Homo sapiens: one gene and its partners. The protein of the gene in region 2 purifies or fractionates together with the protein of the main gene of each other region. This does not show direct contact. Each region holds a gene or a part of one and is shown on either strand. Other genes may lie near its edges.

Region 1 (3,500 bases), on a different chromosome or scaffold from region 2:
GAGAGAACTGGATCTCGTATGTCCACAGGCACCTGGGGAGGTCAGGCCAAGAACAAGGCTGGGGTCAAGACAGTCCTCAAAGGTGGGAGCAGGCAGGGCACGGCCGCGTGGACCCACAGCCTCATTCCCTCAAGCCCCTCGGCGGCACCTCCCCAGCCCCTGGGCACTCTTCCTGCCCAGGCAGGAGAGGGCTGGAGCCCGAATGTCCATCTCATGTCCCCTAGGAGAACCCACACCCCACTGGCAGGGCCTGGCGCGTGGCCCACAGTGTGTGGGGTGAAGGGCAGGGACGCAGGGCGGCGAGGGAGGGAGCCGATGGGCCACGGCAAGTGGCCCGAGTGACCGCATGGGTGAAGGGGTCGGGACCCAGGGACCTGCCTAGGACCAGGCAGAGGGAGGGGCGGCCCCACTCACGCACTTGGAGCCCACGTGTTCATCCGACCAGACCAGAACCAGCTGCCCTTGGGTCAGGGGCAGGGCGCGGAGCCGCGTGACCTGGGGGAGGGAAGGGCTGTGATGGCGTCGGGGAAGGGGAGTCCGGGCCGCGGCGCGGGTTAGGGGACTGCCACTTGCCTGCCCGGGCGGCTTCTCGGGGCGCGCACACACGTGCACCAGCAAAAGCGACGGCAGCCGCAGCGCGGGGCGCAGGGTCAGGCGGCCGCCGGCGGGTAAGGGGCGGGGCGCCGCGGCCACCGGGTCCTGGGCGCAGTGGCCGGTCCTCAGGGTTCTCCAGGGGAGCTGGGGACGCTCGGCCCGACCTCAGGGCGAACGCCCCCGGCCCACCGCTCCACCTCCCACCCACACCGCCTCGGAGCCCCCGCCCCGGACCCCACCCCCCCGGGACCCCGGCCCGGCCCGGCCCCTCGCCCCTCCGCGGCCCACCTACCTCAGCCGCGCGCATGCGCCGGAACTGCTCTGCCGTGGGGAAGACGGGCCGGCCCAGGCGCCGCCACTCGCCGTCGGGGCTGCAGAGCCCGTTGTCCAGGTAGCGCGTGACGTAGACCAGGCCTGCGGGGCCTGACACTCAGGCCTCGGCTCCCCGGGCCGCCCCCTCCAGAGCCCCAGCGGGGCCAGAGACCTCCCTGGAACCCCGGCTTACCCGGGCCGGGGGGCACCCCGCGCAGCCGCAGGGTCACCGCGACGCTGCGGTTGGGGTGGGCGCGGGTGTCGTCGCTCGCGTAGATCAGCACCGCGGCGCGCCAGGCGTCGGCCGGGCCCTGGGGGCGGTGGGCGCTGGCCAGGACGCCCACCGTGTGGTTGCTGTCCAGGACGGTCCCGGCCTGCGACACTTCGGCCCAGAGCTGCTCCTCATCTGCGGGGCGGGGGGGGGCCGTCGCCGCGTGGGGTCGTTGCCCAGCCGCCCCCCGACCCAGGGCCGGGCCTCCCACCACTCGCTCCCCCTCCCCTTGGTGAAGGAGTCCCCAGGCCCCGCCACGCGGAGGCCGACCCCGGGAAGCGCGCGGCTGGAGGAAGTGCGCTCCCCGCAGCGGGGCCTTCGCAGGAGCCGCTCCCCAGCCTGGAGGGCCCTGGCCGGCCCACCCCAGCGGCCCCGGCTCACCCAGCAGCGCCAGCAGCCCCATGGCCGTGAGCACCGGCTTGCGCAACAGCTGCACGTGCGGCGGGCGGGTGTTGTTGACCTGGAAGCGCGCGGTGAGCGTGCGCTGCGCGAAGGGGTGCGGGTGGTAGCTCAGGAAGGCATTGTCGTTGCTCAGGAGCGCGTAGGGGAAGGCGGAGGTGGTGTTGGCCAGTAGCAGGTTCTGATGCTGCGCGATGACCTGCGGGTGTCCAGGGCAGCTGGGACCGGGTGGCGCGGCCACCGCTCGCCTGTCCCGTCTCGGGAGGAAGGTGGCCGGGGGGCGCGCAGGGCGTTGGGCCGGCCCACCTTCACCACCATGGCCGCGTAGGTCACGTCCGCCCTCCACGGCTGTGGCAGGGACCAGCCCACCAGCGGGTCCGCCTCGTCGTTGTAAATGGGGGTGTCCGCGAACTTGGGGAAGAGCTGCCGGATCTGCTGCGCGACGACCTTCTCCTGCTCCAGGATGGAGATGGAGCTGCGCGCACCCTGCGGGCGGGGCCGCCTCAGCACCACCAGGGTCAGCGCGGCCCGGGGCACAGCGGCTGAGGGCGCAGAACACCGGGGCGGACGGAGGGGCAGGGCGCACCTTCCTGTGGAGGGAGATGTAGTCCAGCCGCACGCCCGCCTCCCCAGTGAAGAAGTTGGTACCGTCGTGGCAGTGGCGCAGGAGGCCCCAGCTCAGCGGGGATCGCGGTGGGGTGTGGAAGGAGTCGCCGGGGCCTCCCAGCCGCAGGGCGGGGCTGGCGGCGCGCAGACCCTCCGAGCAGGCATCGTAGTAGTTCAGGAAGCCTGGGCCGGGGGAGCACTGCGTCTACACCTGCCCTGGGGATGAGCGGCTTAGCCTCTGCTCCTGCCTTCCTCTGCCCCCTTTCAGCCGGGCAGGACCCCAGGAAGCGGTGCACACCTTGCATGGTCATGGAGACGTTGTCAAAGTCGTGGTGGTCTGGCTCATTCCACGTCTCGAAGTTCCACTTGGAAACATGCGCCAGTCCGTACCTACCTGCAGAGGAGCCTTGCTGTCCCCCCAGCACAGGTGAATCTCGCCTCAGTGACTCCCACGGAGGGAGGGTGCAAGGTGATGAAGGGCGTCTGACTCAAGATGAACCCCATCTCCATGCAGGCCAGCCTCCCGCCCCACATCAGGAAGCGCTGGCTCAAGGGGGTCCAAGACCTGGGCGGCGGCCTGGGTGATAGGGGTGCGGCCTGGGTGATAGGGGTGCAGCCTGCCCAGGAGTACCCCCCACCCCAGGGGCCCAGGGCCTTCGCCCACCCACCAAGCCCAGGAGTACCCCCCAGCCTGGGGCCCCAGGGCCTGCGCCGACCACCAACCTATCCCTTGTCACCCCCATCCCCCCACAAGGGCCTGCGCCTGCCCACCAATGTATCTCCTGACCAGGCAGCAGCCTGCGTGATAGGGGTGCAACCTGCCCAGGAGTACCCCCGCCCCGGCCAGGGCCCCAGGGCCTGCGCTCGCCCACCGATGTATCTCCTGGCCAGGCTGGAGACCAAGTCCTTCCACTCAAACACCTGCTGCTTGTCCTCAAAGTCAGTGAAGTGGCCCGAGGCGCTGCCCATCAGCTCAAACCCTGGAACACAGGAGGGCTGCCCCACCGCCCACCACACACCACACCCATGCTCTGCCAGGCCTGTGCTCCGGCACCAAGGCCAGCCCTGAATGGACATCCAAGGACTCAGAGGGGCTGGGTGAGGGAGAGGGTGGGCAGGGCAAGGGGGTGCAGGCGGGCTGGGAGGGCAGAGCCCACAGCTCACCTGGGAGGAGCTGGTTCTCCCTGAGAAGGTCCAGGTACCCGTCCAGGTGGGTGAAGTTGTAGCTCAGGCCCCGTCCAGTGGACCCCCTGCAGAAGGACGGTCAGCGTCAGGAAGCAGGGTGCCCACACAGCTCCATGCTCCAGGCTGGAACCGT
Region 2 (4,988 bases):
CAGGTTCTTCTACCTAGTTCAGCACCCCCACAACTCAAAAGGTAGAAAAAACTCTATTCCCAAGTTCCTCCAGGAGAGGAGGAGACCAACTTTTTTTTCCTCTCATACCCCCAAAATACAGATGCCTTAAAAATGAGCCTGTGGTTGGGCACAGTGGCTCACACCTGTAATCCTGGCACTCTAGGAGGCCGAGGTGGGCGGATCACTTGAGATCAGGAGTTTAAGACCAGCCTGGCCAATATGGTGAAACCCCGTCTCTACTAAAAATACAAAACTTAGCTGGGCTTGGTGGCGGGCGCCTGTAATCCCAGCTACTTGAGAGGCTGAGGCACGAGAATCGCTTGAACCTGGGAGGCGGAGGTTGCAGTGAGCCAAGATCATGCCACTGCACTCCAGGCTGGGTGGTAGAGCAAGACTCAGTCTCACAAAAAAAAAAAAAAAGCCTGCGACAGGCTGACTGTGTGCCACATTCCTCTTCAGACACCTGACCTTAGGTGTGGCGCCCACTTGACATCACCTCCTTAAGCACCCTGTACTCCCTCAACAGACTCAGGTGCCAGGTCTTCAACACGCTTAGATTAGACTTCACCCCAGAGCTCCTGCGCTAGACCCTGCCTCTCTGTCATTGATAAATGGTATCATTACACAGCCCAGGCCCTCCTCCTGGACTCCTATTGCCAGATTAAATGAACTATACATTTCAAATGCTCCATGTGGCCCTTGGGGCACTTGATCCCCTGGTTCCCCTCTTTGTCTGCTGTCCCTGATCACCCCTTGTCACCGGGTCAGCTTTGTCCTGTGGACCCTCCCCCTTCAATGACCTCTCTTCCTGCTCAGGTGATGTGTAGGAAGCCCAGCCCCCAGGACTCTCACGACACTCACAGCCCTCCACACCTCCGAGTCCACGGGCCCCTCAGCAGCACCCCAGCCTTTGCCAGGTATTTCCGCTGTGCACGTGGTGCTCTCTTGAACCCCTCCAGCCGCTGCCAGCTCTGGTAACTTGGTTACCAAAGATGCCACAGCACAGAAATATCGACCAACACCTCCCTGGTCACATCCATGGAATCAGAGCAAGATTTCCTTTCTGCTTCTGTTCCAAAAATAAAAGCTGGCACTTGGCTTCCGCTTGTCTCTTAATGACTTGTTCCTGCTATGTTCTATGCCTGGAAGTCATTAACTGTACGGGAGAAAAATACCCTGAAGTTAGAAAAGATAAGAGGGAGAAATGCCAAAAATGTTTCATGGACACAAGAAAAGGAAAGAATCAACAATTGGTGACCTGGTGGGTTTGAAGGCCACCCAGTGGACCAAAGATTGGACAATAAAGCAGTCTAGTTGGAGACGAGAAGGGCTTGGATTAAGTATCGGAAAGCTGCTCCCAATTGTTCTCAGGATTTTATCGTTATTTTATTGTCATTGCCTCCTGCCTCTAATCTGCTGTCCTGAACAAAACCAGGAGAGGTGTGGGAGAGAAGGATGTGGGTCTGCTGTCTCTGGCCCTGGGAGATGAAACTCCGAACCTGGAGAGGCAGTCAGTTAGCACTGATGGCAACTGGTATCTCTGCTGCTGAACCTTGAGATACAGTGATGGTGATCAGAGGCAGAGAGCCATGCCTGCATCTCCTTTGGGAGTTGTGACCTGGAGCCCAGGAGGGAGGGAGGGTCAGTGAGTGAGCATGAAGCAGAGTTGGATATTTGGGAATGTCCGCCTCAATGGCCCTCCTGAGAAAACCATGACACTGGCCAGACTAAAGCAGAAGCTGAGGTGGAAAGAGTGCTTGTGAACAGCTGCCGTCTTGGACGACTGGTCTTCTTCCTGCTGGGCCATGTCCACCACCTGCCACATCTCACCCACTGAGGAGGCCACAAAGTGCTCTTCGAACTGTTCTTGATTCTGGTCTGGAACAGGGGAAAAGGACAAGGACTGAGCCCTGACCCTGGCCTGAACCAGAAAGGAGAAGTTAGAATAGGAAAAACACGTTGAAGCCTAGGGCTGCAGTCCCAATTGCCCATATCCTTAGCCTTCACCAGAGAGGGGATGCTCTTTCTAGAGGTTTTTTCTGGTCTGTGTTCAATCACAGCCCCAACTCAAACACACACACACACACACACACACACACACACACACACACACACACACACACCATTCCTAAGGTTAGCTGCCTCCTCTAGGGTTTCAACACTGGGGGAGTCAGGGGCCACCTTGAAGCATGACAAAAGCCAGCCAAATGCACCATGCTTACACACACAGAAGTTGCATGCAAGCTCAGCTGGCCCATGGTGAGCCGACACTATTATTTCACATGATAACCATCAGTGGCTGGAGTTACCCCCCATAAACCAGACCTATGTCAGGTCTCACCCTAGCCTCATCAGTGACCTGGGGCCTGGCCTCACACAGACCTCACCCTGAGCCTCCAGACTCTCCCGTCTTTTTTTCTACCTACCTGAAGAGGGTGTTTTCTCTGTATGGCTCCTGTCTTTTTTTCCACCTACCTGCAGAGGGCGTTTTCTCTGTCTGGCTCCCATCTTTGGGGCCTGGGCTCCCGTTCAGAGGCTTCACCTGCAGCAGCAGCAAGATAGGAACCAGGAACACTGCCCTGCAGAGCTGGGGGGCCAGGGGAGGCATGGACCTGCCCACCCACTGCCTTTGGCCGCCCCCTGCTCCCAGTGCCCAGCAGGATCCGTGCACCTCCTGCCCCATTCCTGTCCTGGCCCTTAACCCTTTCCAGGGGCATTTTCTCCCCTCACCTTCCATAGGACCTCTGACTTCACATGTTCTGTGACATCACAGCCATGGGCCTGAACTTCATTCCGGCTCACTAGAGCGTTCCAATGGCGAGGCACAAGAATGGAGCACAGCCAGCAGGGATGGCCGAGGCTTCCAAGATGACCACAGTGGGTCATTCTGTATTTAGCAGAAATGACTTAACAGCTTGCAATGTACATTCATATCCATTACACCATTAGATCCACGTAGAAACCAGGACTGCAAAATCATAGTGTTCTCATATCTATTACATTCATGAGGAAACTGAGGCTCACAGAAAAAATGACTCTCTCACTCAAAATCGCCCAAATACTAAGGGGCAGAAAAGGACTCTTGATTAACTTTTACTTTTAAATATGATATCTTCCCACTATTCTATGTGGCCTTTCTGTAACAAGAGTGGTTTGCATAGGATGAGGCCCAGAACAGATGAGCCGGACAGGATTCTCAAGTCGTGGGTATGAACATGCTGCTCTACATGAAGCATGGGTCTGCCAGAAAATAAAGATGGGGAGGAGCATAGGGTAAGGATGGGTAAAAGCACATGCTGTGTGTGTGTATAAAAGACACAGAGACAGAGACAGGCATAGACAGGCAGAGACAGACAGAGACATAGAAAAAGAGAGAAAGAAAGAGACCGAGACAGGCAGAAACTGAGGGGTAGAGACAGAGAGATAGAGACGCAGAGACAGAGAGACAGATGAAGAGAGAGTGAACGGAGAGAGAGCGAGAGACAAAGAGCAGGGTGCCTTGCAGCTGGTAGAGCCCATTCACACCCTCTCTTCACCCTCCCCTGGTTTTCCCACTTTTCTAGCCTTTGTCCTCTTGTACCACCAGGTTGAAACACCCTCTTCTTTCATTTTACACCTTTCTGTACTCTTAGACGAAAGAAAAGGTTGTTAGAGGCTCATCTCCAACCTCATTGCTTGGCAAAAGGAGTTAGAGTCTGCAGAGAAGCCGCAGTGCGGCAGGGAGTCTAGGATCCCAAATAACAGATCTGGGAGAATCCTGCCTCAGTACTTGGATGCGCCTCCTGCCCATGAGCCTGGTGAGCACAGATCTGTTGGCAGTAACCGGCTGTGGGTAATCACCCCCAACTGCTTCTTGGGCAGAGATGGTTGGAGGGTTGTGAGTTAGGGAGACAGAATGAAGGCCTTTTTTCGAAAACCAGCAACAGAGACATAGGCCATTAGATGCAGGATGGCTGCTAAGACAGGTAAGAGAAGACTTTAGTCACTCCTGAACTCTCATAACCAGTTCACACTGCTCCTGCTCATCCATGCATACCAGACCTGAATGAAATACCACATGCAGGTCCAAGGACACTGCGGAGACAGGCACCCTTTCTGCAAGAGGGAACTGCAGACAGAAACACACAAAGAGATGCTTTCCCACAGAGTTTACTCGTGTTAGCAGACATGCCCACATGGATGCTGTCTCACATACAGCAGACACCATCTCTTACACACTTCCTGATGGTCCAAGCCAGATGACAAGGGACTAGGGAGTGGTACGGAGGTCGCTTGAAGGTGAGTAAGGAAAGATTCAAGTAGGCAGGTGACCCTGCTCACCCCACCTTGAACCCATTGACGTGAGATCCAAAGAATGATGCTTGAATGGAAAAAACCATCACTAATCTCCTCCCTCCTGGCTATTTTGGGGGAGCAGCCTCTTGGTTTCCTGGCAAAAAGAGAAGCCATCTCCAGCTCTGTGGGAATGAATGGGGAGGGCGGCTGGGGTGAGAATTGCCTCCCGGGCAGGCTTGAGTGGAAATAACTGAGTTGTTTCCATTACTTCCATTTCCTTGCCACCACCACCCGCCTGACCTCCGCAGTGTTAAAAGAGATAAATTCTTGCAGAAAACAGGGAATCCCTTAAATATTTTTTCTTATTACAAAGTAGAAAATATAGAAAAATACAAAACCCCAAAAAGGCTAATAATTCCACCATCCAGTGATAATCACTTTTTTTTTTTTGAGATGGAGTCTCACTCTTGTTGCCCAGACGGGAGGGCAATGGCACGATCTCAGCTCACCTACAACCTCCACCTCCTGGGTTCAAGTGATTCTCCTGTCTCAGCCTCCCGAGTAGCTGGAATTACAGGCATGTGCCACCACACCCAGCTAATTTTGTATTTTTAATAGAGAAAGGGTTTCTTTCTGTTGGTCAGGAAGGTCTCGAACTCCCTACCTCAGGTGATCTGCCCGCCTCGGCCTCC
Region 3 (3,500 bases), on a different chromosome or scaffold from region 2:
ATTCCATTATTACTACTTTCACTGTTACTATTTCCATAATGTTACTATTCCATTATCATTTACTTTTGCCCAGGGTCTTGGTCCTCTCTTATTCCAAGCCTCTGGAGTGATTTTCAAACTGAATGCCTATGGGATAAATGTTCTGCCCTCAAAGCTCCCCACTTGGGGCTCCAACCTTACAGGTGTGGGTCTGCCTGGGTTCCTTGCTCCCAGCCACCGCCCTCTTCTCCATCATCCCCACCCCAACTTCTCTCATGCTGATTTCATGAAGCTCTCTCCTTGCTGTTTTTTCTTTCTGCTTGAAGCACAGCTCACCGTCACAGGTCATGGCTGTACAGACCCAATTTCCACAGGCACAGACACAGCGGTTACAGTCCACCTCGGTCTCAGCTCCATCTGCATACGTTTCATCCTCCAGGGCACACTCTGTTGGGCCAGAAATACGGGGCAACAGTTTAGCTGTGAGGGTGGAACAGGGCATCTTTGCTACAGTCTGTGCACCTTACCCTTTTTTCCCAGACAAGACCTGCCTGTCCCTCAGAAGCACTATATCTGAGCAAACACTACCATCAACCTAAAGAATGTGGGGCCCTAACTTCACCATGGGGAGAATGGGCTGGGGCCCAGTTTAGAATCATGGAAGGGGATTTTCTCAGCTAGCTCTGGAGAGTTCCACCAATCCTCTCTATCTTGGCTCCTACAAAATGCCTCCATTCACTACAGCTCTCTATTTCTTAGGTTAGGCATACTCTTCTCAGGAGGGTTGAAAGATGGGTTGAGGCACTTGAGAAACTCTTGGAAGCTGAGTTTCCAATCAGCATTTTCATCAGACAGTTCAATGAGAGCATCAACACAGAGTCCCCTGAAACAAAACACAGGAGAAATGTGTTAGCAAGACCTCAGCTTCGCTCAGAAGAAAGGAAGTAAGCATCAGGACCACATACACCCAGGGCCTCCACAGGAGGCCAAGAAGATGACTGCTAACTAAAACAGCCTCTCTCTACACTGACCCAACACAACTATTATCCATCCTGACCAATGCAGGCATCTAACCTTTAGTTTGTTATATGAATGTCAGATCACCCAGGCTGTCCAAATGTTCCCCCCCTTAAGATGACTAAAGTTTCGTGAATGGTTTTGTCTAATGTTTTCACTGCCTGCATACCTTCCACTAGCAATTGCTTTTCCCCATGGTATATACACGTCAAGTCAACCAAACTAGGAAAATCAAAACAGAAGAGATATGACAGATGACATGAAAGGAATATAGGATTTGAAAGAATATGAAGTTCAAGCAAGAATCACCATTATCATCCTTCTAGAAAGAGATTTTCAGAAAAGCTTTTAGAACTCAGCTCCATCAGCTTGCAGTGAGCCGAGATCCCGCCACTGCACTCCAGCCTGGGCGACAGAGCGAGACTCCGTCTCAAAAAAAAAAAAAAAAAAAAAAAACAAAAACAAAACAAAACAAAAACAAAAACAAAAAAAAACAAAAAACAAAACAAACAAAAAAAAACTCAGCTCCATCACTTCTTTCTTGGGCTGTATTTGAGCCCTGGCTCAATCACTTACTACTCAAATGGACTTGAGTTAGTTATTCAACTTTTCTGAGCCTGTCTTCCCATCCGTAAAAGGAGGACAAGAAGCCCTCCTTCACTGGGATATCATGAGGCTCAAACGTTGAAATTATAAAACATATAATTTCAGATTATCAAAATATGAAGGATTTACAGAACCTATACTTTAAGGTCATAGACTATTATTAAAGAAGAATCCTTCTAGAAACTGTGCAATGCACTTCTTTTGAAAAAAAGACATGCTTTTCCTATTTTTAATTCTTACCGATGTGCTGAAACCACATCAAAAGTTTCTTAGCGATTAGTTTTTATTAATATTGATTCTGGAATAATGCCATAAAAGTAGACGGGCATATATCTGTAACAGTTAGGGCAATTGACATGAAATAGCACTAATTATCTAAAAATCAGAACAAAGCTATTTTAGACCTATAGTTAAATAATACATTACTGTAATTCCTTCAGAAAATTAATCAGTAAAACATCACCCACAACATTCAGAAATAACTTGCTCTGACGTGCCCTTGGCAATTTATTTTAAAATTATATTCTTCTAGTCCTTGCAAGTTCTGACCAAAAACAATAACTATTTGATTAGATATCAGTGGTACTCAATATATTAATTCATACTTTCATAGAATAGAACAGGACAGAATTCCCATTTTGCTTTTTACGTGACATTCTCTCACTGGTGGCTCTTTTGCAGGTGGGAAAGGGTTTAAGTCCCCTCTCTCAGTTAGTCTTCCCTTGTGGATCATTCTCTGACCTCTCGGTTCCTCTCACCTAAGCAACTTGTTGTTCTCCTGGTCTGGATACGTTGTAATATTGATGGCAGTTTCATTCTGTTCCACAAACTTCAGGAATTCACTGGAGTCCAGGCGAGAATCACCATTATCAAAGTTCTAGAAAGGGCATGACAAGATCGTTCAGGGATGTTTTGCAGAACCCCTGTTCCATCATTACTCCACTCAGCTGACCTGCCTCTGATTCATCTTGTTCTTGATACATTCCAACCCTGCCCTGACCTCAGAGGGCCTTGGCAACAAATGCTCTAATCCCTGGGACATGCAGAGAAGGTACCTGTGCCCACAATGAGAGAGGAAAAGTGCCTGGGCAGAGGAGGCAACCTGAACTGAGGCCTCTGGGGTCCCTAAGCATGCTGTGTGGCCCCATCTCTGACACTGCCCTGTAGACACTTTTGACTATACCTTTGGGTTCAGACCAACCTGCACATCATGTTCTCAAGCCCTGATGAACATGTAACAAGAGTTTAAAGTTGCACGCTGTGAATCAGAATCTCTGTAGCAGGTCCCAGAATATGTTTCTAATGAGCTGCTCAGGAACAGCAGCAATGCAGATGACCCTCTGAGCTCACTTTGGAATTATAGGATTCCAAATCTTGTTGCTTGATTCCAGCCTCCTTGTCCTGTTCTCAGTGCTTAACTTTCACTTTGGTGCCCGTAACTGATCACATCAGTGAGAACTCAGGCAAAGGCCTCAAAGCAATAAGCTACAGACAGGGGTCATCATGCAAAGTTCCCGCTCCTCTGCCCTGTGGGCCCCACTGCAGATGTGTGCACAGGTCCTCAGATCATCCAGCTCAGGCTGCCCTCATGACCCAGCTGGCATCCCACAAGCACAAAGTGAGGAGTGCAGTAAGCTCACACACTGTTCTCTATGGCAAGATGCTAAACTGAGACCTCAGCCATCTGGGACCATTCAAGACACCCAGGCACTAGCTGCAGGAGGAGGGTGTCAAATCAAGACTGATCAAATTCCAAGTTGCATATGGCTGCTCTCCTAACAAATTTCAATAACATTTTCCCCCTTCCTCCCAAATCCTTTCCCTAGGCTCCCTCATGCTGCTGCCCTGGGAAAGGATCAGCTTCCCCATGTTACTTTCAAGATGGCTCCCCAGATGGT
Region 4 (3,500 bases), on a different chromosome or scaffold from region 2:
CAGCCTGGGCAACAAGAGTGAAACTCCATCTCAAAAAAAAAAAAAAAAAAAAAACCTAATGGCATAAGGAAATGCAGTATCTTAATTTTTAAAAAAGCATATATTCATGTACATATATACACATATACACACATGTACGTATCACTTTTTTTTTTTAAAGAACTAAAGGGAAATCAATTTTATCTGGTAAGATCTGCATTTAGAGGTAAAGAGTGTATTTATTCTTTATTCTTCTCCATACTTCCTCATATGCTTTAATTTTACATAAAAATTCACATTATTTTCAAAGTCACAAAGGCATTAAGTGTTATTTTAAATATATATACATAGTACAATGAATTGTACTCTTAAGAATCAAAGATAGTGCCACCAGTACCCTAAAGTCATGTAAGGCAATACCCACCAGAAACATCTTAGTGACCCTTACTGCCTTATCTCATTTGAATTTTAAAGCCACATGTTAGATAATTTGCCTGCTCCTGAACTGACAAAAAGGTGGCTTCCACCCTGCAGTTGTCCCAGTCAGCAGATTCTGGACAGAAAAGGGCATAAAACAATTATCACCAAAGTCAAAGAGCAGCTCAGATGCTCAGCAACACTGACTAGCCTTCTCTTCTGGGTTAGAACTACAGATTTAAGCTTTCACCAGAACTTGTGCCCAGAAGCGAATGTTTTTCCTAAGGTGTTGCAGAGGGTGTCATTACTATTGAGGAAGTTTCCATGCATCGAAATCTGGTAAAAGATCCTTTCTAGGCCTGTTGATGATATTAAGTGCTTTATGGAACCTGAATAGAGTTCTTAAGCTATTCTTTGAATTTTCCTAACATGTAGCCAGCTGCAGGGAATAGGAACCAAGAATTTTAGCCTTTTTTATAGAAAAGATAAGGAATCAGAGAAGTGCTGAGAGGTCAAGCCTATTGTTATCCATTGTCCCCCACCTGATGCCAGGGCCCGCACCTTCTTGGAAAGGGTGGCCTCGCACACTACTGCTTCCTGCTTGCTGTACCATGCCAGAAACACCACCACCACCAATGCCCTGGTTAGATCCAAAGGTGAACTTGGCCATACCCAGCTTATCTTACAGCCCACAGAAGAAAACTGTATCTTTTGAACAGGGCAATGACAACCACATCTCCTAGTTTAGTAGGGTGGTGGCAAGCCTGACCTCTTCTGAAACAGAGCATATTTCCTCTCATGTCTGGTCAGGCTCTACCCCTGTAAATGCTAAGAATAGCTACATAAACAGGTTGCTGAAGCCCTGTGTTCAAACAAATGAACAACGTCAGATCTACATGAACAGTTATGCCTGGGTGGTAACAGATGCAGGTACATTCAAGCCAGAGTTAGTGATTACTAATAGGAATGAATGCATTTTAATTAAGCGCTGGTTGGGCACAGTGGCTCACACCTGTAATCCCAGCACTTTGGAAGGCTGAGGTGGGAGGATCGCTTGAGGCCAGGAGTTTGAGACCAGCCTGGGCAATACAGTGAGATTCCATCTTTAGAAAAAAAACTTTTGTTTTAAATTAGCCTAGTGTGGTGGCACATGCCTATAGTCCCAGCTACTCTGGAGGCTGAGATGGGAGGATCACTTGAGGCCAGGAGTTTGAGACCAGCCTGGGCAATACAGTGAGACTCCATCTTCAGAAAAAAACTTTTGTTTTAAATTAGCCTAGTGTGGTGGCACATGCCTATAGTCCCAGCTACTCTGGAGGCTGAGGTGGGCATAAGGCTTGAGTCTGGGAGGGGGAGGTTGCTAGAGCCTGATCACACTACTGTACTTCAGCCTTGGTGACAGAGCAAGACTCTATCTCCAAAACAAAACAAAACAAAATAAAACAAAAACAACACCAAAAAAAAAGAACAAGAATAATCTAAATTAATCTAAGTGCCTTAATAAACTTTGTCATTTGTAATCCTTACAACAAGCCTATGAGGTTAAATGATATTATATTGTCTGTTTTACAAAAGAGGAAGTAAGCTTTAAGATGATCGGTGACTTGTTCAAGGTCACACATCAGTAAGGAACACAATGTGTTCCATCCGCCCAACAGAAACACTAACTACCTTCCAGAATAAACAATGGTTCCCATGTTAGGATCATGCATAAGAGCTACTTGGAGCCTCTTAGATGCAGAGCCCATAGGGAATTTCTTCTCATTTCCTGCTTCACTAAAAACATTACTGTGATTTTCAAATGAGTCCCAGCTGTAACTGTACCACACAGAGCATCACAGAGTTTCACCAGGGGCTGCTGCTATTCATTCATGGCTCTTACTATGTGCCAGGCAAAAGGTACTAAGCTCTGGGGCACAGTGGGGAACAAAACAGACCAAAGTCCCTCCTCTTTCAGAACTTACATTGTAAGTGGGAGAGACACATGATCAGCTCATACAACAAATACTTGATGCTAAGTAGCTTGAGTGTTATAAAGAATGAGAGTAACAGTGGGTTTGGGCCCTCCTGTGAAGGAGGGAAGGCTAACTTCTCTGAAACAGAATGGAATGCGCATGGCTGTGTTCTAACCAACTTTATTTACAAACAAAGAAGGAAGAGAGGAAGGGGTGGGGGAGAGCAAATGCAGACGCTCAAAGACAGGCGAATGCTCAGCCACCACCCAACAGTCTTGTCCTAGAAGAGAGCCACCATGCCTTAGTAGACTTGAGGGGGTGCGGAGCTTTTTAGGGTGTCCACAGCAGCAAGAGGTCTGCTCAAGCACTTCTGACAGCAAAAGAGCACCAGGACACAGCTGGGAAGAAGCAGAGGGTCATAGAGAGCTATGACCATCAGGTAAGACAAGGGACATTCTAAGCCTCATCGTTTGAACATGGCAATGACAATCACATTGAGATTGAGACTCCAACCTCACACATGTGCGTGCAATCCCTCCTCAATCCAGACTTGAAGTAGTGGTGCTGCATGAAAGAAAGGGTCTTAATGACTGAGGGGTAGAAGAATGAGCCCCTTATTCTGAGTTTACTCCTCCTGTCTAAAACATTTCTGAGGTCTTCCTCAGACCTTTTGACTGGCCTGGGCGTGCTTGTGAACTTGGCCTGGCTTTGATGAGGATACTGGGCAGGCTGGACTCTACCACAGGATGGCTGGAAAAGTCCCAAGCCACAGAGAGGCCCATTTTTAGGTTCCAAGCTTTTTAAAGCAGAAAGCCCTTTCTTTAATCACACCAGCCACGTCACCATACAGTAACTAAAAGCCTTCTCAGACACACTGAACAGCCCAGCTATTTTTTTCCCTACCATTTTCACTTCAAGAACAGTGTATTTCCCTCAAGGGCAGGGGATTTCTACTTTGGCAACAGTGGTTTTCCACATTATCCCACAACAGTCCCAGCCCTCAAAAAAAAAAAAAAAAGAAAAAGAAAAAAGAAACCATTCCTATTCCTTGACCATATTTCCCTATTTGTAGGAAGAGAGACACAAAAAAAAAGTGGAAAAACAAAACAAACTAAAAAACCCTTTACATGCTTGCATCTTTAATGAAAT

Evidence for each region.
Region 1: the proteins of LLCFC1 (region 2) and IDUA purify together in Homo sapiens (affinity purification with mass spectrometry; one large-scale study listed by BioGRID and IntAct). This does not show direct contact.
Region 3: the proteins of LLCFC1 (region 2) and FSTL1 purify together in Homo sapiens (affinity purification with mass spectrometry; one large-scale study listed by BioGRID and IntAct). This does not show direct contact.
Region 4: the proteins of LLCFC1 (region 2) and MGAT5 purify together in Homo sapiens (affinity purification with mass spectrometry; one large-scale study listed by BioGRID and IntAct). This does not show direct contact.

What each region holds. Positions count from the first base shown.
Region 1 is NC_000004.12:1,000,544-1,004,043, reverse strand, and holds part of IDUA (alpha-L-iduronidase isoform a precursor), read right to left. Parts: intron 3,433-3,500; coding exon 3,347-3,432; intron 3,163-3,346; coding exon 3,055-3,162; intron 2,577-3,054; coding exon 2,481-2,576; intron 2,366-2,480; coding exon 2,163-2,365; intron 2,063-2,162; coding exon 1,883-2,062; intron 1,776-1,882; coding exon 1,559-1,775; intron 1,313-1,558; coding exon 1,100-1,312; intron 1,009-1,099; coding exon 887-1,008; coding exon of another isoform or gene 700-886; coding exon 574-699; intron 496-573; coding exon 419-495; exon of another isoform or gene 415-418; intron 33-414; coding exon 1-32.
Region 2 is NC_000007.14:142,937,263-142,942,250, reverse strand, and holds LLCFC1 (sperm-egg fusion protein LLCFC1 precursor), read right to left. Parts: upstream 2,768-4,988; 5' UTR 2,630-2,767; coding exon 2,497-2,629; intron 1,900-2,496; coding exon 1,664-1,899; 3' UTR 1,383-1,663; downstream 1-1,382. Other genes in the region: KEL (kell blood group glycoprotein), read left to right, coding at 838-999. UniProt on the Homo sapiens protein: Sperm protein required for fusion of sperm with the egg membrane during fertilization.
Region 3 is NC_000003.12:120,402,493-120,405,992, forward strand, and holds part of FSTL1 (follistatin-related protein 1 precursor), read right to left. Parts: intron 2,480-3,500; coding exon 2,361-2,479; intron 863-2,360; coding exon 750-862; intron 427-749; coding exon 316-426; intron 1-315.
Region 4 is NC_000002.12:134,260,572-134,264,071, reverse strand, and holds part of MGAT5 (alpha-1,6-mannosylglycoprotein 6-beta-N-acetylglucosaminyltransferase A), read right to left. Parts: intron 1-3,500. UniProt on the Homo sapiens protein: Catalyzes the addition of N-acetylglucosamine (GlcNAc) in beta 1-6 linkage to the alpha-linked mannose of biantennary N-linked oligosaccharides.